7 linked regions of the Homo sapiens genome follow. The protein of the gene in region 1 interacts with the protein of each later gene in a pairwise test. Each region holds a gene or a part of one and is shown in the gene's direction. Other genes may lie near its edges. The genes, in order: AATK, CDC14A, PTPN18, MTMR8, STYX, MTMR9 and PPP3CB.

Region 1 (2,213 bases):
CCTGGACATCCCGTCCTCAGCCAGTGATGGTGGCTATGAGGTCTTCAGCCCGTCGGCCACTGGCCCCTCTGGAGGGCAGCCGCGAGCGCTGGACAGTGGCTATGACACCGAGAACTATGAGTCCCCTGAGTTTGTGCTCAAGGAGGCGCAGGAAGGGTGTGAGCCCCAGGCCTTTGCGGAGCTGGCCTCAGAGGGTGAGGGCCCCGGGCCCGAGACACGGCTCTCCACCTCCCTCAGTGGCCTCAACGAGAAGAATCCCTACCGAGACTCTGCCTACTTCTCAGACCTCGAGGCTGAGGCCGAGGCCACCTCAGGCCCAGAGAAGAAGTGCGGCGGGGACCGAGCCCCCGGGCCAGAGCTGGGCCTGCCGAGCACTGGGCAGCCGTCTGAGCAGGTCTGTCTCAGGCCTGGGGTTTCCGGGGAGGCACAAGGCTCTGGCCCCGGGGAGGTGCTGCCCCCACTGCTGCAGCTTGAAGGGTCCTCCCCAGAGCCCAGCACCTGCCCCTCGGGCCTGGTCCCAGAGCCTCCGGAGCCCCAAGGCCCAGCCAAGGTGCGGCCTGGGCCCAGCCCCAGCTGCTCCCAGTTTTTCCTGCTGACCCCGGTTCCGCTGAGATCAGAAGGCAACAGCTCTGAGTTCCAGGGGCCCCCAGGACTGTTGTCAGGGCCGGCCCCACAAAAGCGGATGGGGGGCCCAGGCACCCCCAGAGCCCCACTCCGCCTGGCTCTGCCCGGCCTCCCTGCGGCCTTGGAGGGCCGGCCGGAGGAGGAGGAGGAGGACAGTGAGGACAGCGACGAGTCTGACGAGGAGCTCCGCTGCTACAGCGTCCAGGAGCCTAGCGAGGACAGCGAAGAGGAGGCGCCGGCGGTGCCCGTGGTGGTGGCTGAGAGCCAGAGCGCGCGCAACCTGCGCAGCCTGCTCAAGATGCCCAGCCTGCTGTCCGAGACCTTCTGCGAGGACCTGGAACGCAAGAAGAAGGCCGTGTCCTTCTTCGACGACGTCACCGTCTACCTCTTTGACCAGGTGGGCCGCCGCCACCCGGGGTCTGCCCGGGGCTGGGGGTCGCGCTCCCGCAGGAAGGGGTGGGAGCGGCCGCGGCTCCTGGCGGCCGAGCTACCTGGTGCTCTCTGATTCCTCCAGGAAAGCCCCACCCGGGAGCTCGGGGAGCCCTTCCCGGGCGCCAAGGAATCGCCCCCTACGTTCCTTAGGGGGAGCCCCGGCTCTCCCAGCGCCCCCAACCGGCCGCAGCAGGCTGATGGCTCCCCAAATGGCTCCACAGCGGAAGAGGGTGAGCAGGGGCGGGGCTGGGCCCGTGACGTCACGGGAGGCAGGGCCTGGTCCGTGCTGTGTGGGAGGCGGGGCCTAATGTGTGACATCATGGGAGGAGCACCTGGTCCTTGACGCGTGGGAGGCGGGCTTTGGCCCGTGTCGTCATGGGAGGCGGGTCTGGTACGTGACGTCACGGAAGGCGGGGCCTTGTCCGTGCTGCATGGGAGGCGGGGCCTGGGCCCGTGACATCATGGGAGGCGGGGCCTGGGCCCGTGACATGATGGGAGGCGGGGCCTGGGCCCGTGACTGTGGGAGCGGGGCCGGGCCGGGGTCCCAGGCTGTGAGCGCGAGTGACGCCGCGACCTGGGCTGCAGGTGGTGGGTTCGCGTGGGACGACGACTTCCCGCTGATGACGGCCAAGGCAGCCTTCGCCATGGCCCTAGACCCGGCCGCACCCGCCCCGGCTGCGCCCACGCCCACGCCCGCTCCCTTCTCGCGCTTCACGGTGTCGCCCGCGCCCACGTCCCGCTTCTCCATCACGCACGTGTCTGACTCGGACGCCGAGTCCAAGAGAGGTGAGGCCTGGGCGGGGCTGTGGCAGAAGGGCACGCGGGAGGCAGGGCACGGAGCTCCGAGGGTGGGGCCCCTCCGTCTAGGTCCTGGGCCGGGCCAGCCCCGGCTCCGCTCCGCTCCGCTCCTTCCCGGCCCCGCTCCTTCCCGGCCCCAGACCTAGCCTGGACCCCGCCTGGCCCTCGCCTGGCCCTCACCTGACCCTCACCTGACCCTCACCTGACCCTCACCTGACCCTCACCTGGCCCTCACCTGGCCCCTGCACTCGGCTCTCCTCTGCCTGACCCTACCCCGCAGACCTGCGGCAGGCCCTCTCACCGGAACCTTCCCAGCCAGAAGTCCCTGCAGACCCAGGTCCCACGGTGCCCCGGCCCCA
Region 2 (3,500 bases), on another chromosome or scaffold:
ACATATATATGATCTGATAGAGCCTTACGGTCATCATTTAGAACCTCAATTCTCATTATAAATTGCTATGATATAGACAGAAGAGGAGATTTGGTTGAACCTCGAGACAAATTTCATTGTGGGAATAATAATAAAGCCATAGCAACAACAACAGCAGCAGCAGCAGCAGCTAACATGTATAGCCCTGTGCCAGGCAGTGTTCTAAGTGGTTTACACGCACACATTAACTCAATTAATCCTCAGAACAAGCCTAGGAGTTAGATGCTGTTATTATCACTACTTAACAAAGGAGGAAGTAGAGGTCCAGAGAGGGAAGTATATTGCCTAAGGTCACTGAGCTGGTAAGGCAGAGCAGGGATGCAAGCCAGAGGCAGTCCACCCTGGAGTCCAGGCATTTCCCAGTTGGCCTGAGACTGATGCCAATGGGGAGGGTATGGGACAACTTTGCCCCTTCCTGACAGACTTGATCCCTCTAACTTGGGTGGTGATGGCTCTTGGGGGAAATGTGCCACTGACAGTATATGCACAAACTATGACCAGCTCCTATCTGGGAATGTGTGGTGGTAATTTAAACATTTTTCTTTGTAATTTCACTTTTGGGGGGTATAATTTTGCCTTTTTTTTCCTATCAGTGCACTACCAAAAAGAAAGAGAGGAAAGAAATTGAGTTAATTGTAGGACACGTGAAAACGAAAGAAGCCCAGTTTTTATAAGCCTATGATAACTGCTTTTGTAGGCTGTCTGGTGAAATGTTCTGGCTGCTTACCTGGTGTAACTTAAGGTGATTTTTTTTTTTAAGGTATTCTCCAAAAAAAACCCTCAGAAAACTGTTTACTTTCTAAAAGATGGTAGTTTATAGTTTCTTCCCCCCTTTTTCTTCTCTTCATCCAAACCTTGGAAAAGTAATATTGTTCAGGGCTGCTTTTTTTCACCTTCTTCTTTTTTTTTTTTTTTTTGAGTTGGAGTTTCCTTCTGTTGCCAGGCTGGAGTGCAGTGGTGCGATCTCAGCTCACTGTAACCTCCGCCTCCTGGGTTCAACCGATTCTCGTGCCTCAGCCTCCTGAGTAGCTGGGATTACAGGCGCGCACCACCACACCCAGCTATTTTTTTTTTTTTTTTTTGTATTTTTAGTAGAGACGAGGTTTCACCATGTTGGCCGGGTGGTCTTGATCTCCTGACCTCGTGATCTGCCTGCCTCGGCCTCCCAAAGTGCTAGGATTACAGGCATGAGCCACTGTGCCTAGCCTTTTTCACCTTCTGTTTTGAACACATGACAGCCAGTGTTATGATGTAGTATATGTTAAGAGGAAGTAGATATATCTGTGTACATTCATAGTTAGTTCTTTTTTTTTTTTTGAAACAGGGTCTTGCTCTGTCACCCAGACTGGAGTGCAGTGGGGCAATCTCGGCTCACTGCAACCTCCACCTCCGGGGTTCAAGCAATTCTCCCACCTCAGCCTCCCGAATAGCTGGGATTATGGGTGCATGCCACCATGCCTTGCTAATTTTTGTATTTTTTTGTAGAGACAGGGTTTCACCATGTTGACCAGGCTGGTCTCGAACTCCTGGCCTTAAGTGATCTGCCTGCCTCGGCCTCCCAAAGTGCTGGGATTACAGGTGTGAGCCACCGTGCCTGGCCCACAGTTCTTAATTCTGTAATCCAGGGGAATCAAATTTACCTTCTAGATAATGATTTATTTAAATATCTGCTGTTTTGACCTCTTAGGCATTCGGTGTAGAGTTGATCTCTAATCTTCATAATGATAAATTATTACTCTGTTTTTTCAGTTTGCTTGAGATAAGGCTGTGAAAACAAAAAATGTAGCCGAGGTGCTAAGGAGAGTTATCTTAACAGGGCTAGTCATAATCATGCAGCCTGAGAGAGAGCTCCAAGTGGGCTGCAGGAGATCCCAGTGGGGAGCTGTCAGCCTTCCAAGTTCTTTCTGTGCCAGGTCACCACAGGGCGGCTTCATTATTTTGTTTGAAGTAGATTCCTAAGACATCAGATGTTCTCATTTGTAAGTTCATAAACACATTCCCAAGCCAGAAGTAAATGACTTTTACTTAGCCACAGCTCAATACCCCTTTGTGCTTAAAAAAAAAAAAACAACAAAAAACAAAAAACAAAAAAACTAAAAACTAAAACACAAGCCTCACAAAACTCTTGACACATTTTTATGGGAAGTGAAAAGCATAACTTAAAACTTTCATAAGTGGTTGAAAATTGCTATACAAGAAACTTAGTATTTAGATGGGATAGATTTTGATGCAGAACACTGTACTAATGCTTTGGAGATATGTATTTGTAAAGAAGGAAGTAGAAACACATGCAGTACAGGATAATACATGACCAAAGCTGCAAATGTATGTGTTAGGAGTTCAAGAAAGGAAGAGATTATTGCTACCCAGGGTGATAAGCACTGAGCTAGTTTTTGAAGGGTGTATAATAGCAAAGAGTACATTTTATGATCTCTGTGAGGACCAGTACTACCTGTTTTTGCTCACCATTATGTCCCAACACCTAGCACTGTGCCTGGCATAGATATGGGGCTCAAGAAATTTTAGTTGAATGAATGAATGAGTGAGTAAGTGAATGAGGAAGAAAGGAAAGAAAAAGATTTCAGGCAGAGTCCTGAGAAAAGGCACAAGAGGTGTTTGGGAATAGCAAGATTCTGTTAGAGGAGGTGTAATAATATTTGAATGGAGAGGAGTCACAGGTCACAGCAGCAGTCACTTAGTTGGGGACTGGATTGTGGAAAACTGTTTGGATGTCAGTAAATTGTGCTTGCTTGTAAATGGCAGAGAGTGACCAGGGCTCTACTTTAGGACGAGTGCTGCCATCGCTCGAAGGTGGGGTCAGTTAGGCTATGGAAGAATTGGATTAGGGTTGCAGCAGTGGGGAAAGAAAGGCCAGATGGGGAGAGGCTGGAAAGAATTGGTTGACTGGATTTGGGACTGAGCAGATGCGGGTAGGGAGGAGGAAGCAAAGGTGAATTCAAAGTTTCTGGCTTGGGTGACTGGGAGAGAGGGACACCTTTAAGTAGGTGAGGTACGTAAATCAGAAGGAAACTGCCTTTTTGCTATTCTGTTTTGTTTTGAGGATTGGAGATAGGAAGTAAAAAGGGGGTCATTATAATGGAGTCTTTGTCTTTTGTGATCTTTAAGCGGAAAATAGACCGTGTCTGTCCTGGATATTTAAAATGTGGGGAGGTAAGTGGCACAACTGATCTCAAGTTCCTTTCTGGCTTTGTGATTTGAGCTGAATTTTTTATACTGAATTGTGAAATTCATTGTGTCTTAGAAATATTTTTTTTAATTTTTCAAAGAATATTGCTTTTCTACAATGAAGAAATTCAAACCTACAGTGCTATAAATTTTTAATTGGCATAATTTTGTATATGCAGTTTTAAATGCTGATTTTTTTAATCATACATGAGCATTGTAAACCAATGCCATTTTTCAAAATCACCATAAATGTCTCTATATTAATAATATTTCGG
Region 3 (3,500 bases), on another chromosome or scaffold:
AATATTCTACATTTCATGTAAAATGTCAGAACTTTACTGTAGTATATTTCGATTACCCCTTTCCATGCTTTGTGCTATTGTTACTATATATTATAGTTCTATATATAAAATATACTCCACAGTACACTGCTATTATAGTTGTTTTAGAATATCTTTTTAAACAGCTTTATTGATATACAATTCAGTCATTTAAAGTGTACAGTTCCATCATTTTTCTATATTCCTGAGCTATGCAACTATTACCACAGTAAGATTTTTGTTTTTGTTTTTGTTTTTGTTTTTGAGACGGAGCCTCGCTCTGTCCTCCAGGCTGGAGTGCAATGGCGCGATCTCAGCTCGCTGCAACCTCCGCCTCCCGGGTCCACGCCATTCTCCTGCCTCAGCCTCCCGAGTAGCTAGGACTACAGGCGCCTGCCACCACGCCCGGCTAATTTTTTGTATTTTTAGTAGAGACGGGGTTTCACCGTGTTAGCCAGGATGGTCTCAATCTCCTGACCTCGTGATCCGCCCACCTCAGCCTCCCAAAGTGCTGGGATTACAGGCATGAGCCACCGTGCCCGGCCTACCACAATAAGTTTTTGAACATTTTCATCATTCCATAAAAAAATCCAGGCCAGACATGGTGGCTCATGCCTGTAATCCCAGCACTTTGGGAGGCTGAGACTGGTGGATCACGAGGTCAGGAGATCAAGACCATCCTGGCCAACATAGTGAAACCCCGTCTCTACTAAAAATACAAACATTAGCTGGGCATGGTGGCATGTGCCTGTAATCCCAGCAACTCGGGAGGCTGAGGCAGAAGAATAGCTTGAACCAGGGAGTTGGAGGTTGCAGTGAGCTGAGATTGTGCCACTACACTGCAGCCTGGCCACAGAGCAAGACTGTCTCTCAAAAAAAAAGAAAAAGAAAAGAAATCCTATATCCATTAGCAGTCACTCCCCATTTCCCAGCAACCTCTACAGCCCCAGACAATCCCTAATCTATTTTTGCCTTTATACATTTGCTTACTTTGGACATTTCATATAATTGAATCACATAATATGTAGCCTTTTTTTGCTTAGCATTTTTGTTTTGTTTTGTTTTGTTTGCTGAATACTATTCCATTGAATGGATCTACCACATTTTACTTATTGGTTGACAGAAATTGGGTTCTTTCTACTTTTTGGCTATTATGAACAGTGCTGCTATCAACACTGATATACAAGTCTCTGTGTAGATGTGGGTTTTCATGTCTCTTGGGTATTGCTGGGAATTGCTGGGCTATATGGAAACTCTATTTTTAACATTTTGAGGAAGTGCCAAACTGTTTTCCACAGTGGCAGCATCATTTTACATTTCCACGGCAATGTTTGAGGGTCCCCATTTCTTCTCCCTGATGCTTGTTACTGTCTTTTTTTTTTTTTTAATTATAGCCATCCTAGGGGTTGTGAAGTGGTATGCCATTGTGTCTTTCTTTAAATTATGTGGTAAAATATACATAACATAAAATTTGCCAGTTTATAGGTGCTGTGAGGAATGTTAAAAATAATTTTGCCATTTAAACCATTTCAAGTGTACAATTCAATTGAATTAAGTACATTCACAATGGATTAACCATTCCTACTGTCTATTTTCAGAACATGTTCATCATCCCAAACAGAAATTCTGTATTCATTAAACAATAACTCCCCATTCCCCCATTTCCAGGTAACCTCTATTCTCCTTTCTGTCCCTATGAATTTGCCTATTCTAGGTACCTCATGCAAGTGGAATCAGGAATACACTAATATACAATACTTGTCCTTTTTTCAAGGTTCATCCATGTTGCAGTGTGTATCAGAATTTCACTGTTTTCAAGGCCAAATAATATTTCATTGTATGTATATATCACATTTTGTTTATCCATTCGCCTGTTGGACATCTGGGTTGTTTGTACCTTTTGACTATTGTAAATAAGGCGGCTACAAACATTGGTATACAGGCTGGACACAGTGGCTCACGCCTGTAATCCCAGCACTTTGGGAGGCCGAAGCAGGCAGATCACGAGGTCAGGAGATCGAGACCAGCCTGGCTAACACGATGAAATCCCACCTCTACTAAAAATACAAAAAATTAGCCAGGCGTGGTGGCAGCCGCCTGTAGTCCCAGCTACTCGGGAGGCTGAGGCAAGAGAATGGTGTGAACCCATGAGGCGGAGCTTGCAGTGAGCCGAGATCGCACCACCGCACTCCAGCCTGGGCGACAGAGCGAGACTCCGTCTCAAAACAACAACAACAACAACAACAAAAAATTGGTATACTAGTATCTGTTTGAATCCCTGTTTTCAGTTCCCTGGGTATACACCTAGCATGGAATTGCTGGATCATATGATAACGCTATGTTCAACATTTTGTTTTCCACAGTGGCTGTACCATTTTACGTTCCCATCAGCAGAGAGAGAGAGAGGGAGGGAGGGACATGTGTAGTTTAATGACAGGGATATGGTCTGCATTGTTAAGACTATCTTGTCATTGTGTAAACATCATAGAGTATACTTACACAAACATAGATAGTATATACATTTTTTATTTATATATTTTTCATATGGAAAACCAAATGTCCCAGCACCATTACTGAGTATCAATCATTTCCCCAACTTAATATGCAGTGTCAATATCAAGTGCCATGTATCAGGTTTCTACATATGCTCCATTATAATCTATGGCACCACCATTGTATATGTGGTCTGTTGTTAACCAAAACATCATTATGTGGCATATGACAATGACATATATGCCATCCTAATGAGTGGGAAGTGGTACCTCATTGTGGTTTTGGTTTTCATGTGCTTATTCGTCCATTTGTATATCTTCTCTGGCCAAATGTCTATTCATGTCATTTATTCATTTTAAAATTGGGCTATTTGGGGTTGTCTTTTTATTATTGAGTTGTAAGCGTTATTCTGTATATAAGTCCCTTATCAGTACATGATTTAAAATGTCTTTCCCATTCTGTGGGTTGTCATTCCACTTTCTTGATGGTGTGTTTTGAAGCACAAACATTTTGTGAAACTTTAATTCCAATCTATTGTGTTGCTGTGCTTTTGGTGTATCTGAGAAGTCATTGTCTAATCAGAGGTCATAAAGACTTACTCCTGTTCTTCCTTCTAAGTGTTTTATAGTTTTCTTGCTTACAGTTAGGTCTCAGATTTACTTTGAATGAACTTTTGTATGTGATGTGAGATAGGGGTCCACATTCACTCTTTTGCATGTGACTATCCAGTTGTTCCAGCACCATTTGTTGAAAAGACTATGCTTTGCCCATTGAACCGTCTTGGCCCCTTTGTTGAAAATTAATTGGCCATAAATATAAGGGTTTATTTCTGAACTCTCAATTTTATTAAGCTGATTGATGTGTTTATCCTTGTGCCAGTGTAACATAGTTTTGATTATTATACCTTTGTAGAAGTTCTGAAATCAGGAAGTATGAGTCTTCCAAATTTGTTCTTTTTTCCAAGATTGTTTTGGCTATTTTGGGTAGGT
Region 4 (3,500 bases), on another chromosome or scaffold:
ACCCTGCCTTAAAAAAAATAGAAAATTTATCCTAGGAATATCTGAATCATTTCCACACTTGCTCCATTCTTAGATGGTGGATATGATTGAAAGACTTCATTGAAGAGATGACTTTTCCAAAGAAATTAGGGACTGGGGCATTGAGGTGATGGGAGAGCAGAAAAGGCACTATTGATTGGAAGACCATTCCAGGCACAGGACAGGGAGTCTAGAGAATGGAAAGAGCACATCCAGGCTCCATAGTTGCAGAAACATAAGACAGGGATAGGAGGAGAACATCAAAGATCAAAATGCAAAACCATGATTATATGGCTTTTTGAATCAATTAAGAGAGAATTATATTATTTGGACACATTTTGTTTCATCAGTTCCCTTTCCATGCATTTCTTTTTTTGCTGGCATCAGCATGAACAGAAGTAATCATCCTACATTCTTTGCTTTACTGTCACTAGAGTTTAAAATGTAGAGGAATAGTTCCTCCCTAACATTTCTAGTTAAATCCTTATTCCAGAACTTAATCCTGGACTTAAGTTTAGACTGCTATGGTTCAAATTCTGTTTGTGCCACTTCTTGGCTATATGATATCTGATGAGGAATTCACTTCTCAGAGCTTTGTTTTTTTTTCATTCCTGAAATAGGATGATTACACGTCAAATGGCTCTTCTTAAATAGCTAATGGTCATGGACTACTTTGTTTATGATAAGGCACAATACCTGCTATTAATAATTATCTTAATTAGTAATTTGATATAAGAAAAAAAATTCCTGTTTTCCTCTGTAACAATTATTCTGATTGTGAACTCTATCACAGCATGCTAAAAGTCATCTATTCTGAGCTGATCTACCAAAATTGTCCCACAAACTTGGTAATCTCGTATCCTTAAGGAGAGAGAAGTTTTCTAACACTGCAGTCTGCTTCTTGTTGCTTTACCACTATTATGCTTTAGTTCTATTTGAGAGAACCCCAGTTGTGTCTTACAAAGAATGGTTGTAGGCTGTAGATGTAGCCTACAGATCTGGTCATGCTGTTACCATTACGGAGAGTCAGGAATACTGATAGTGATAGAGATATTGCACATCTGTATGTTTACGCTGGTTCTTTTATGTTTTTCAGATTGCACTCCATCACATTGCCACTGTGGAGAAGTTACCCATCACTAGCCTGGGTTGTCCCCTGACCCTCCGCTGCAAGAATTTCCGGGTGGCCCACTTTGTTTTAGATTCTGACCTTGTGTGCCATGAGGTTTATATTTCACTGCTCAAGCTTTCTCAGCCAGGTAGTTATGATAGTATTTTTATCTAAAACCATTTTAATATTTTTCCAAAATGGCATAATGGAAAGATCAGGGCTATGGAGTCAGAGGAGGGTTTGGATCTGGGCTGTACCACTTATTAGCTCCATTATATTTGGGCAAGTTATATAACCTCTGAACTCATTTTCTTTACCTGTAAAAGTAAGGAGAGTAAAAGCTCTTCAAGGGGATTGTTTTGAGCCTTGAATACCTTCATGTATTAGTATATAGTAGATGTTTAATAGATATTTTCTTCTCTCTCCTTCCCTCCTTTAAAGTATCAACTTGTGAATGTTTTCTCAGTTCAGGAAGGAAGACTGCTTTGGAAGAAAATTTGTTTCCTGCTGTCCTGCAGACTTTTTGTTTGGCCCACGATTTCCACCCCTACTTTTAATTCCAACTAGAAGACTAAGGCAGTTCATCAAAGTCCTCATTAATGTAGGACTTAATGCTTCCTCCAGCATCACCCTTTCATTCCCCAGCCCCCACCCCTAGGCAATTAACCAGCTTCCTCTGATTTTAGTCTTTGATTTTAATCATGCTCTTACATTTTCTCTCCCATTTTTCCCCTTTTCCCTCAGAGTAATTCCTCAATATTTGCTGATTTTTATTGATAAAGTTACCTGCTGGATGGCCTAGCATTTTACAAGTCTCTGATAGGCTCCATTAATCTCTGGAGAAGTTGTTGCCATATAAATTGGTCAAATGAGTTATTTGATTGGATGCTGTATCTCGTGAAGGGAGGAAGCAGGACTGACAGAGAAAAGAGAGGAAGGGGCCATTTATAAGTCAGAAGTTGCTGTTGGTCTGACAAGTACAATGCAAAAACATTGTTAAAGATGTGCAACATGTTACAATAAGCAGTACTATTAGGACATGGGAGCCCAGTTAAAAACTTTTGGTAAGGACTCTTTTCTTAACATGTGAAACCCTGAAGCCTCAGTTCAGTCAATTATCCAGCATTCTTTTTTTATAGGAAGCCAGGCAGAAAGATCCCACTTCGTATTGATAACACAAAAAATTAAAACATTTTTTCAAAGAACCCAAACAATATTCCAGTTTTTATTCCTTACATAAAGGCAAACTTGCACACACCACAGTCCTTTTCTGGGGCTGTTTGACAAACATTCCCTTAGGAAAAGGAAATCTAGCCTTTATTTGCATTGTTTGATGATTTTTAGGTTTCATTCATCATTTTGTTTTCCATGCCTATCTCTCTTCTCCAGCATTACCTGAAGATCTTTATGCTTTTTCTTATAATCCCAAATCCTCAAAAGAGATGAGGGAAAGTGGATGGAAACTGATTGACCCAATATCAGACTTTGGGCGTATGGGAATACCCAACAGAAACTGGACCATAACAGATGCCAACAGAAACTATGAGGTAATTTTGTCCTTGTTGTTTGCCTTTTGGTGCATTTAATTAAGATGGTAGAATATCAGGAAACAAGATTTTGAAAAAAGAGAGAAATGACTCATAATCTCTCTCTCCTTTCCATTCAACATTCAGCCATTCAACAGACATTTATTGAGTACCTACAGTGCAATAGGCACTGAGTAAGAGATCTCATGGCCTAAAGCATAGGGTGTTATGGGAGCATAGGTGCAGGGCATGAAAATCAGCCTAAGGAAGCCAGAAACAACCTGATGCTTTGCAGAGTAGCCTTGTGAAGGCTAATTTATTTTAACATTTTTTATTTTTAATTATTATGGATATATAATAGTTGTACATATTTATAGGGTACATGTGATATTTTTATACAGGCATACAATATGTAATGATCAGATCAGGGTAATTGGGGTATCCATCACCACAAGTATTTATCATTTATTTGTGTTAGGAACATTCCAATTCCATTTTCAGTTATTTTATTATTGTTATCTGTAGTCGTCCTGTTTTGCTACTGAATACTAGATCTTATTCCTTCTATCTAACTGTATTTTTGTACCCGTTGAGGATCCTCTTTTTATCCCCCCCACTCCACTACCCTTACCAACCTTTGGTAACCATCATTCTACTCTCTGTCTCCATGAGTTCATTTTTTTTTTTTTTTTGCTCCTACAACATGTGAATGAGATTATGCAATATTTGTCTTTCTATGCTTTGTTCATTTCACTTAATATAATGTCCCCCAGTTCCATCCATGTTGTTGCAAATGACAGGATTACATTTTTTTGTGACTGAGTTATATTCTATTGTGCATATGT
Region 5 (3,500 bases), on another chromosome or scaffold:
ATGGTGCTTTTTAACCCTTACTCTAGAGTAAGGAATTTTTTAAAAATACTGATGCGTGGACCCTACCAGCACCTATTGTAGTTTAATTTATCTGAATGAAGCTAGATGATTCTAATGTTCAGTCAGGTTTAAAAATTGCTGGTTTAGAAAATATCTTACTTGAGTACTCTTCTGCCCCTCCAGTCCCTGCCCACCTTCTCTTTTTATTTGAGTGAAACATTTTCTTTTCTCCTTTGATTTAAGCAAAGCTCAAGCTTGGTGTGGGAATGAAAGGAAAAGGACTTTGGAGGGATTTACCTATTTTTTCTAGGAGAGAAAGTGCAATACTAACTTTTCTGTTTTGTGGAATGTCCCAGTGCAAGTCTAGTATTCTGATGTTTTTTTTCTTCCCCAAACTGTTGCCCCCCACCTCCAGCCTATGTACAATTTGTGTTTTATTTTAGTATTGTGTATATAGGATTCAGCACTATCCTCAAATGTATGAACATATCCCCTGTGGATAAGGGGGGACTACTGTATTTGTAAAAGTTCATATTTCATATTTCAATGCATATAAGAATTATTTTATCTAATGGTTACAGTCTATATCCTTCATTGATGTGTTTATTTGAGGGTCTTTGAACATTTTTGTAACTTTTCTCTATCCAAATGCAGTTTTATAGATCATTTTTATGGAAAGGAAGGAGATAATTCGGAAGGATGTTTTAACATGTGGTACTTTCTACCTCATGTTGATCGAAAGATTTTCACTTGTGAATTAATTTGTCTCAGAATCATGGTGTTTCACAATAGAGGGTTATTTTGGTTTATCTGGCTTGCCTTGGTTTGGTTAATGTGGTTGAACTGCTTGGCTACTCATAAAGTTTGGGAAATTGATTTCTACTAATTAATTACAATAGTAACTTAAAATAGATCATTGCTGGTGATATGGAGATGCCTCCATTAATACCACGGTTTCTAAAATGATAGATTTCAGGAGTAGTGTGAGCAGGCTGAGATTAAGAATTAAGTGTGATAGTGGCAAGACTTGGTTATTAGACGTGTGTTCAGACGGATGTGTGGTAGAAGAAGACTATGAGCATTCAGACTTAAAATCTTGGTTAGTAAGATCCATAGACAGGCAGGGTTTTTTTGTTTGTTTGTTTGTTTTAACAGGTTGGAGTGCAGTGGCAGGATCTCAACTCACTGCAAGCTCCGCCTCCCGGGTTCACGCCATTCTCCTGCCTCAGCCTCCCGAGTAGCTGGGACTACAGGCGCCCGCCACCATGCCCGGCTAATTTTTTGTATTTTTGGTAGAGACGGGGTGTCAACCATGTTAGCCAGGATGGTCTCGATCTCCTGACCCTGTGATCCACCCTCCTTGGCCTCCCAAAGTGCTGGGATTACAGGCGTGAGCCACTGTGCCCGGCCAACAGGCAGGTTTAAGGTTTGTTCTGTAGGTGGTAATCTGGGTTAGGGCAGCAAAGAAGGTGGATTCTGAGATCAGCATCTGATGATAACACCAGGAATAGTTCCAAATGAACTTTTCTGTGAGAGAAAGCTTTCTAGGTTTCAAAGGATCCATACCTATTGCAGTAATTACTAATGTTCTCTGAAGAAGGCTTCTTATCTGTCCTGTGACTAGGAATAATTTTTCATTCCCTCCTACTATACAACTTGCTTTTCCCTCTTATAATATCTTCCATATATATATATATCTCAAGAGAGTCTTTCATGTTGTATTACATATAACCTTATGGAAAGCTCAAAAGTTCTTTGAAGCCTCTTGTTTTGCTAAAAGGTTCAGGTAAATTTTGCATTCTATCCCATATGTGCCTGTTTGTTTTAATATAAAAATTGTTTAAATTAGTAACCAGTGAAAATACTGTTTCTCCCTAAAGAATTTTTTTGATAAAATTGATACTTCAGTGGCTTTGAGTGTCTTTTGGCATATTGCCAAATGAAGGTGTTGAGGAAATGCCACTCCAAAATATGACACCTTGATATATTGATTACTTTAAGTTGGAAACACTTGCAAAGTAGCAAATGCAAAGAAACACTTTCTCTGAACTCCTGTTACCTACCTAAGGACAGATCCTCCAAAAGAAGCTCAGTTTGCTCCTAGGGAGTTTGATCAACCAGGGAAGATTGTCTCTTATCACTGGAGAGGAGAGTAAAAGTCAGCACCACACCCAGACAAACTGACACAAAGTATCATCTATTATTATTCTAAGGGCCCATTTATCTTTCTCCAGAATTGTTCTTCTAAATTGCCTGTATACCTCTACCCCCATGCTATATAAAGGGTATATAAACTCCTAAATATCACTTTTTTTTTTTTTGTATACACGTTTCTTTCCTGTGATACCCCCATGCACATAATGAATCTGTATACCTTTTCTCCGTTTAGTTTATTTCATAGACTGGTTTGAAATATCACGGATTTTGTTTGTTTTTGGTATACACTTTTTAAAAATACCACTTTTTTTTTTTTGGTATACACTTTTCTTTCCTGTGATACTCCCATACACATAATAAATTTGTATACATTTTCTCCATTTAGTTTATTTCATAGACTGTTATCGAATCCTGATGGTAGAGGGAAAGTCTTCCTTGCCTTACACAAGTATTTCCCAGAATATATTTACACCATTCCTTGATATGTGTTGCCCTGTTTTTTTTTCTTTAATTACACAAAATTTAGTGATTTCACTTTAGATAAATTCAAAAGTACTCATTTCTTTAATTGATTTTCTTCTTTATCACAGCTCTGACAAGTTGCTTCAGGAAGATAAGGCTGGCTGTTAGACTACTTGAGAATCTTTTAAAAAGAAAAAAGTCAATAACATTTAGTGCAGTAGATCTCTGAAATGCATCTATTTTGTGCTTATTCTGTGTCAGGCACTGTGCTTATCATTAGGGGTACCATGACTAAAAAGAGTATTTGGCCTAAAGTCTTTAAAAACTGTTTTCTTTTTCCTTTCTTTCTTTTTTTTTTTTTTTTTTTTTTTCGTTGAGATAGGGTCTGTCTCTGTTGCCCAGGCTGGAGTGCAATGGCACCATGATGACTCACTGCAGCCTCGACCTCCCAAGCCCGAGTGATCTTCCTGCCTCAGCCTCCCAAGTAGCTAGGACCTCAGTCATGCACCACCACCGCACCTGGCTAATTTTTTAATTTTTGTAGAGATGAGGTCTCCCTATATTGCCCAGGCTGGTCTTGAACTCGGGCTCAAGCTATCCTCCTGCCCCAGCCTTCCAAAGGGCTGGGATTGCAGGTGTGAGCTACCATACCTGGCTAAAAAACTCATATATAAAAAGATTACCATAACACATTGGTAAGTTAAAGAATCTAGGCTGGGCGCGGTGGCTCATGCCTGTAATCCCAGCACTTTGAGAGGCCGAGGCAGGTGGATCATGAGGTCAGGAGTTCAAGACCAACCTGGCCAAGATGGTGAAACCCCATCTCTACTAAAAATACAAAAATTAGCCAGGTTTGGTGGTGGGCGCTTGTAATCCCAGCT
Region 6 (3,500 bases), on another chromosome or scaffold:
TAATATATAATATATAACATTATATATTTTATTATATATGTTATATATTATATTATAATATATAACATATATAATACGTATTATATATAACATAATATGTATTATATATTATATAATATGTGTTATATATCATACGTATTATATACTATGTATTATATATGTATTATATAATATATATTACATATAATACATAGTATATAATACGTATGATATATAATATATATTATATAATACGTATTATATAATATATATTATATTTCACCTATATAATATATATAATTATTCACCTAATTATATTAAATAATTATTCACCTAAATATTCACCTAATTATTCAGCGAATAGGTGAATAATTATTTATTCACCTATTCACCTAATACATGTAATTATTATATATAATATATTAATAATTATAATATATAATAATAATAATTATATTATAATAATTATATATTATAATATAGTATAATATAGCATATAATATATATTATAATATGTATATATAATATATATACATAAATATATAATATATTTATATATATATAATATATATATAATGATGTCAGGTAATAAGGGCCAGGAAGGAAAGTAACGGAAGATGAGAGGATAAAGAGCACTGGGAGGCAGTTTCCTTAGAAAGGATTTCAGAGAAGGCAGGTGACATCTGACTACAGACCGGAATGAAATGAGGAAGCTAGAACTGTGAGTGTCTGGGGGAAGAGCATTGCAGCCAGAGGGAACAGCGAATACAAAGACTTGAGATGGGGAACATGCTTGGCATGTGCAGAGAAGAGCGAAGAGGCCAGTGTGGCTGCAGGGCAGGGAACAGAGAGTACAGGAAGTTGATGGTAGAGACTGGCTGGAGGGATAAGCAGTGGTCAGACCGTGGAGGGCCTGCAGGCCACAGTAATGGTTTTCATGGGAGCCCTTGGAGAGGTGAAAGCTAGGAAGCAGCAGCTGATAGATGTTTCAGAAGACAATTCTGGCTGCTGGCAGAAAATAAACTGTAGGGGGGCAAGACTGGAAGCAGCAGGCCCAGCTTGGAGAGTAGAGTAGTTCACATAAAAGATGATGGTAGGCCGGGCACGGTGGCTCACGCCTGTAATCCCAGCACTCTGGGAGGCCGAGGCGGGCAGATCACCTGAGGTCAGGAGTTCGACACAGCCTGGCCAGTATGGTGAAACCTCATCTCTACTGAAAATACAAAAAATAGCTGGGTTTGGTGGTGCATGTCTCTGATCCCAGCTACTCAGGAGGCTGAGGCAGGAGAATCACTTCACCCTGGGAGGCCGAGGTTGCAGTAAACTGAGATTGCACCACTGAACTCCACCCTGGGGTGACAGAGTGAGTCTCTGTCTCAAAACAAACAAACAAACAAACAAAAAACAGTAGTGTAGTCACAAGGAATCTGATTTGGGATGTGTTTTTGAAAGTGGAGCTGCCTTGCCTTGCTGGTGAATTGTAAATGAGGTGAGAAAGTCATTAAGGGTAACTCCTTCAGTTCTGCCTCTTACTAGACAAGTGCCTTTGGGCAAACTACTTAACCTCGTAGAAACTTAAGTTTAAATAATGCTTCACAAGTCTGTGGAATACTTTCATATATATCGCTTACATCATTTTATTTGATCCTTTCAACATGCAAGGTTGTATACAAGTTTTACAGTTATACCTGGTTTTTTTTTTAATGGACCTCAGAAAATTGAGTTACTACTACTCAGTTGATGACTCATCATTTTCATGATTGATTCCTTAAAAGGTTTCCTCTGTTGTTGATTTTCTTCCTCCCTAATTTTCACTCCCGTTTCCTGCCTCATCCACAATCCCTGTAGGCAACCACGTTAGTTGTTGCTATAAAATAGATAGCACTATTGTGTATGGGTGTGCGCACACATGCATGTGTGAGTTTAATTTGCCTAACTGGGATTATGTTGTAGATCTTGTTCTGCTTCTTAATATGGTGACACAATACTGTTTCAAGATCTCTTCATATTGCTGTGTGTACAACCATTTCACTGCTTCTGACAGCATAGGATTCCAAAGTATCTAAAAGAGCTTCCTTAACAGACCTTTTAGGTAACTTCCAACTCCCTGCTATCACAAACAACTCTGGTAAACATACTCATTCATGTCCCTTTATATAGTCTTGTGCCATAATTGCTCTGAGACTGCCCCTAGGATGGGATGGCGCCATAAAGTAGGTGCGTATCTCATTTCACAAACTAATTGCTTTCCAGGATGACAATTGCACATTGCCTTCCCATGATGGTGCAGGAGAGGGTACCTCGTCTCCACTTTCTTACCAACATTTGGTATTGTCTTTCTAATTTTTCCAGTCTGAAGATTGTGAAATAGTTATTGCTTTGTTTTAATTTGAATTTCATTAATTATTAGTGTTTAATTATCTTTGTATATGCTTGTGAGCAGTATACTTAAAATTTTTTTTTTTCCTTTTTGTGAATTGCCTAATTTCTGTGGTCTACTTTTAAACATTGGGTTTATTGTCCTTCTCATGTTGATTTGCATGGGTACCTTGTATACTCTGTGGGTGTTCATTCTCCATTTAGGCATTACGAATGTTTTCTAGTGTGTCACCCATCTGTTGTTTTTTTCTGTGGTGCCCTTTGTTGAACAGAAATCTTTACTTTTAATGCAGAACTTGCCAATGTTTTGCTTTATGGTGTGTGGCTTGTCTTAAGAACTCCTTCCCTGTCCCCAAATCACCAGGATGTTCTCCTACATTTTCTTCCATAATAGCTTCATAGTTTTACTGTTCATTTTTAGGTCTTTAATTTGGATTCTATCTTTGTTTCAAGTGTGATAAGAACCTATTTTTCTCCATAGAGCAAGCCAGTTTTCTTAATCCCATCACGTGACAACCCAACCTTGGCTGGTTTATGTCAAGTTATCCTATATATACGGGTCTGTTTCTGAGCTCTCTGTCATAATCCATTGGTTCATTAATCTGCTCTTTTGTCATCATCATATTCTCTTTCCTTCTGTGGCTTTGTGATGTGTCCAAAAATCGGATAGTGCTAGTTGCCCCGCTTTCGTTTTTTTTTTTTTTTTTTAAAGTTGACAACTATGTTTCGACCTTTATGTTTCCATGCAATTTTGGAAAACTTGCTATGTTCATGGGATTTTTAAAAGTCTTTAATAATAATTGAAGACTCAAAGGCAGTTGCAAAAATTGCACATAGAGGTTTTAGAATCGTCCACTCAGCTTCCCCTAATGTTGACCTGTTTTATAACTGTAGTGTAATCAAAATGAGGACAAAATTAGGACATTGACATTGGTGCAGTACTATTAACTAGACCACAGACTTTATACAATTTTCATAGGATTTTAAAAAAATGAATTGTTTTGGATTTATAGATTAATTGGAGTCAAATTGACATCTTGACATCCATGAACAATGTTACATTATTTATTCAGATCTTCCTTTAAGTCCCTTAGTGGAACTTTAAGATGGTGTATATGCTAGGTGCTGTACTAGGAGCTGAG
Region 7 (3,500 bases), on another chromosome or scaffold:
AATTACTCCATCAGACACTTGTCTGTCTTGCAATGTAGAAGCAGCTTTGTAGCACCTTGTTTTGAGGTTTGCTGCATTTGTTGCTGCACTTTGTGCATTCTGAACATGAATGTAACATTAGATATTAAGTCATTGTTATAAGGGGTTGAATTTAAATCCTGTAAGTCAAAATTGAAAGGGTGTTATTAAGTGTGCCTTTATTTTGCATGAAAATAAAAAGAATTATACGTAAAGCATTCCTGTAATCTGGCTCATTGAATATTTTATACTTAAAAAACTTTTTTTGGCGTAAATATTTGTGTAAATACTGGGTTAACTTTTTAAAAGCCCATTACAGATTAAATAGAAGAGAGTGATGTGAGTATTAGTGACCATACACAGTAATTCAGTCTAGATTTCTTTTCCTGTGGTTGGAAAGCAAAAATACATGATGTGGAAAAGCCTGAATTTCTTGTAGTCACTTTTGACAGCCCTCTAAGGGTCATTGTCTATTAAAATAGCAACAGATCTGATGTTTTCCTTAGTCATAATTAGGTTTCTTTTTGGTGTTGTAATTAGTGACTTTTTTAGAGGGAAAAAAATAGGCAATTTTAACGTTTTGAATGAATTTACATTTGACTTCACAATTTCATTTCACTTGGTTCCATAATAAGTGCTCTTTTTTTTTCTTTTCTCTCTTCTCTTCTCTTTCTTTTTCTTTCTTTCTTTCTTTCTTTCTTTCTTTCTTTCTTTCTTTCTGTCTTTCTTTCTTTCTTTCTCTCTCTCTCTCTCTCTTTCTCTCTCTCTCTCTGTCTTTCTTTTTTTGTGTGCATGTGTACATGTGTGTGTGTGAGAGAGACAGACAGGGTCTGGTTTCTTGCTGTGTCACCCAGGCTGGAGTGCAGTGCAGCCTCAACCTCCTGGGCTCAAGCAGTCCTCCATTTCAGCCACCCAAGTAGCTAAGACCATAGGCACATGCCACCACAGCCAGCTAATTTTTTTTATTTTTTTTATTTTTTATTTTTTTATATTTTTGTATTGCCCAGGCTGGTCTCAAACTCCTGGGCTCAAGCAATCTTCTGACCTCAGCCTCCCAAAGTGCTGGGATTATAGGCATGAGCCACTATGCCTGGCCAATGATTGCTTTTCAATAAAAAAAATTTTTTTCCTGTAAACAATTTTTACTTGTAGCCTATACATGTTCTATTTTAAATGTCATTGTATTGTTCACTACCACCACTGGTATATCTGAAAAGTACACTGTGTTTTGAAATTATAAATTTTCATTCTGAATGAGGTTTCTTTTTTTGATTTTCTTTAAAAAAAAAAAACAACCTGCTTTGATTTGCTTTACATTCCTTGCCCTCCATTTTTCTTATTATATTGTAAACATTAGAAAAATGAACTAAAAAGAATTTCATGAATGTACATTAAAACAAGATCTTAAACATTTGATAAAACTAGTAAAAATGTTAATAGAAAAGGATGAACTTTAATAGCTTCAAAAATATTATACTCTTCTTTGTTCAGAAAAGAAAAATAAAACCAAAAGGGTATCATACTTAAATAAATCTACAGTATAGTCATCTCTCAGTTATCCTTGGATATAACATTACTTTTATATTGTATCCGCAGCAAACCTTGCTTTCAGATTTCACGATTAGCCCCTGCTAATTACATGCTTTGTTGACTTCTGTTTATTCTTAATTTGTACACGGCTTGAAGCTCATTCCTTCAACTTTGAAACCACCCTCAACTGCAGGGGAGGTTTGAAAGACAGCAGCTTTGCTGGAGGGACTCTCTATTCTCAGCATGGACTAAGTTACTGGAAGGAATTGAGTTTAAGGGGTCTAATTTGGGACCCCTTAAACTAGATAGCTTCTAGTTTTGCTAGCTCTTGATAGTGTGGTTTGGGCATTTGGTCAAAATTATTTTCCTAGCATAAGATAAATCCACTTTGAAACAAATAACAAAGGTCATACAAAAGCTGCATGTTTGTGATTATTTTTTAAAAAGTTATCCTACATTTTAAATTTTAGTAGATAATGTTCCCTGATGTTAGTGTGTATAACTGAGAGTTAGGTATTGCAAAAGGAAAAAATTTTAATTCTAAGACCTCGTGCCTATTTGTCAGAAAATAAAAATTGTCGTTTCAAGAACTTTAAAAGTTAATTTACATGATGTTTCTTGAGTGTTTTTACAAACTGCACAACTCTATTGGAGGTGGATTTTCTGTTCATCTTTATTTTATGTATGTTTTCTTTCTGGGAAATTTGATTGGGAGCTAGCACTGTAATGCTACCCTCACCAGGATCTATATGGGAAATATATGTGGCCAATTCTATGTTAGTAATACCAAATTCCTCTTGGTCATTTATCTTGCATAGTACTGAGGAACACAGTTTGAGATAGCACTATGCTCAAACTTATTAAGGCCATGACAAGATGCCCTATATAACTGAAAACAAATAGAGGAGAAATAGTGCCTTTCAGATAGAGTGTTGCAATTAGCAATCTGGGCTCAAGTGATCTTCCTGCTTCAGCTTCCCGAGTAGCTGGGATTACATATGCACACCACCATGCCCGGCTAATTTTTTAAACTTTTTTTGGGGGGAGATGAGGTCTCTCTATGTGTTGCCCAGGCTGGGCTCAAACGCTCAAGGGATCCTTCCACCTCAGCCATCCGAGAGTGCTGGGGTTATAGGCATGATCTTCCATGTCCTGCCCGATTTGTAATGTAGTTTAACAGTTAAGGAAAATTAACTCTTCCTTTATTCAGTGTTCGTCCTAATTCTTTTGGGTCCCCAATTCACTTTACTGTCTGGTTAAGATCAACATTTTCTAACTTAGTTCACTTTAATACCTTAGATTCATCAGTTTCTTTTACATTAATAATTGCTTTGGATAAAATTATTTCTAAATCATGTTAATTGCTAAAAGATCACTTCAGGAATAATTATTCTAATTGGCCTTATTGCAGAAGAAGCAAAATAGGAGAGACCAGGGCATTACTTTTACAAATATTCTGAGTAATAAGGGGAATGGACAATATTGTAAACCAGTATTGTTGTGTGCTATCTTGAGTCCTGGTCCTCAGTGTGAGCTCTTTATACAGTTCAAACCCAGAAATGAGCGAAAAAAAGAATCTTTGACTATAAAATGTTTGACTAATTATGGTGAAATTCTCTAAATGGACCAGTGACACACTATACCAATAATGTATTTCTTATTTATAATATGACCTATGTGTCTATATCATGAAATAATTAGAATTTATGCCTGTAAGACCTCACTTCTCTTCCTTAATGTCTCTTTAATTGGTAGATGAGTTTGAAAAGATGCTCAGTAGTCTTTTTCTGAGGCAAATTTGAGTTCATGATAAACTCTGTCAGTATAAATGGAATTTTTTAAGGCTATAGATGTTAGTATCTGTAGGTATTTGGAACATCAGTACTAGAATAGAAAGGAAGTTACTGGTAGACAGGAGAAGTCCTTTCAGGTCCCCCACAAAGAACAGAGCC

Evidence for each region.
Region 2: the proteins of AATK (region 1) and CDC14A interact in a two-hybrid assay, tested with the Homo sapiens proteins (one study listed by BioGRID and IntAct).
Region 3: the proteins of AATK (region 1) and PTPN18 interact in a two-hybrid assay, tested with the Homo sapiens proteins (one study listed by BioGRID and IntAct).
Region 4: the proteins of AATK (region 1) and MTMR8 interact in a two-hybrid assay, tested with the Homo sapiens proteins (one study listed by BioGRID and IntAct).
Region 5: the proteins of AATK (region 1) and STYX interact in a two-hybrid assay, tested with the Homo sapiens proteins (one study listed by BioGRID and IntAct).
Region 6: the proteins of AATK (region 1) and MTMR9 interact in a two-hybrid assay, tested with the Homo sapiens proteins (one study listed by BioGRID and IntAct).
Region 7: the proteins of AATK (region 1) and PPP3CB interact in a two-hybrid assay, tested with the Homo sapiens proteins (one study listed by BioGRID and IntAct).

Annotation. Positions count from the first base shown.
Region 1 is NC_000017.11:81,119,009-81,121,221, reverse strand, and holds part of AATK (serine/threonine-protein kinase LMTK1), read left to right. Parts: coding exon 1-1,021; intron 1,022-1,138; coding exon 1,139-1,286; intron 1,287-1,641; coding exon 1,642-1,842; intron 1,843-2,213. UniProt on the Homo sapiens protein: May be involved in neuronal differentiation.
Region 2 is NC_000001.11:100,359,006-100,362,505, forward strand, and holds part of CDC14A (dual specificity protein phosphatase CDC14A), read left to right. Parts: intron 1-3,500. UniProt on the Homo sapiens protein: Dual-specificity phosphatase. Required for centrosome separation and productive cytokinesis during cell division. Dephosphorylates SIRT2 around early anaphase.
Region 3 is NC_000002.12:130,362,556-130,366,055, forward strand, and holds part of PTPN18 (tyrosine-protein phosphatase non-receptor type 18), read left to right. Parts: intron 1-3,500. UniProt on the Homo sapiens protein: Differentially dephosphorylate autophosphorylated tyrosine kinases which are known to be overexpressed in tumor tissues.
Region 4 is NC_000023.11:64,353,953-64,357,452, reverse strand, and holds part of MTMR8 (phosphatidylinositol-3,5-bisphosphate 3-phosphatase MTMR8), read left to right. Parts: intron 1-1,114; coding exon 1,115-1,277; intron 1,278-2,518; coding exon 2,519-2,676; intron 2,677-3,500. UniProt on the Homo sapiens protein: Lipid phosphatase that specifically dephosphorylates the D-3 position of phosphatidylinositol 3-phosphate and phosphatidylinositol 3,5-bisphosphate, generating phosphatidylinositol and phosphatidylinositol 5-phosphate.
Region 5 is NC_000014.9:52,736,666-52,740,165, forward strand, and holds part of STYX (serine/threonine/tyrosine-interacting protein), read left to right. Parts: intron 1-3,500. UniProt on the Homo sapiens protein: Catalytically inactive phosphatase. Acts as a nuclear anchor for MAPK1/MAPK3 (ERK1/ERK2). Modulates cell-fate decisions and cell migration by spatiotemporal regulation of MAPK1/MAPK3 (ERK1/ERK2).
Region 6 is NC_000008.11:11,287,816-11,291,315, forward strand, and holds part of MTMR9 (myotubularin-related protein 9), read left to right. Parts: intron 1-3,500. UniProt on the Homo sapiens protein: Acts as an adapter for myotubularin-related phosphatases. Increases lipid phosphatase MTMR6 catalytic activity, specifically towards phosphatidylinositol 3,5-bisphosphate and MTMR6 binding affinity for phosphorylated phosphatidylinositols.
Region 7 is NC_000010.11:73,440,525-73,444,024, reverse strand, and holds part of PPP3CB (serine/threonine-protein phosphatase 2B catalytic subunit beta isoform), read left to right. Parts: exon of another isoform or gene 1-236; intron 237-3,500. UniProt on the Homo sapiens protein: Calcium-dependent, calmodulin-stimulated protein phosphatase which plays an essential role in the transduction of intracellular Ca(2+)-mediated signals.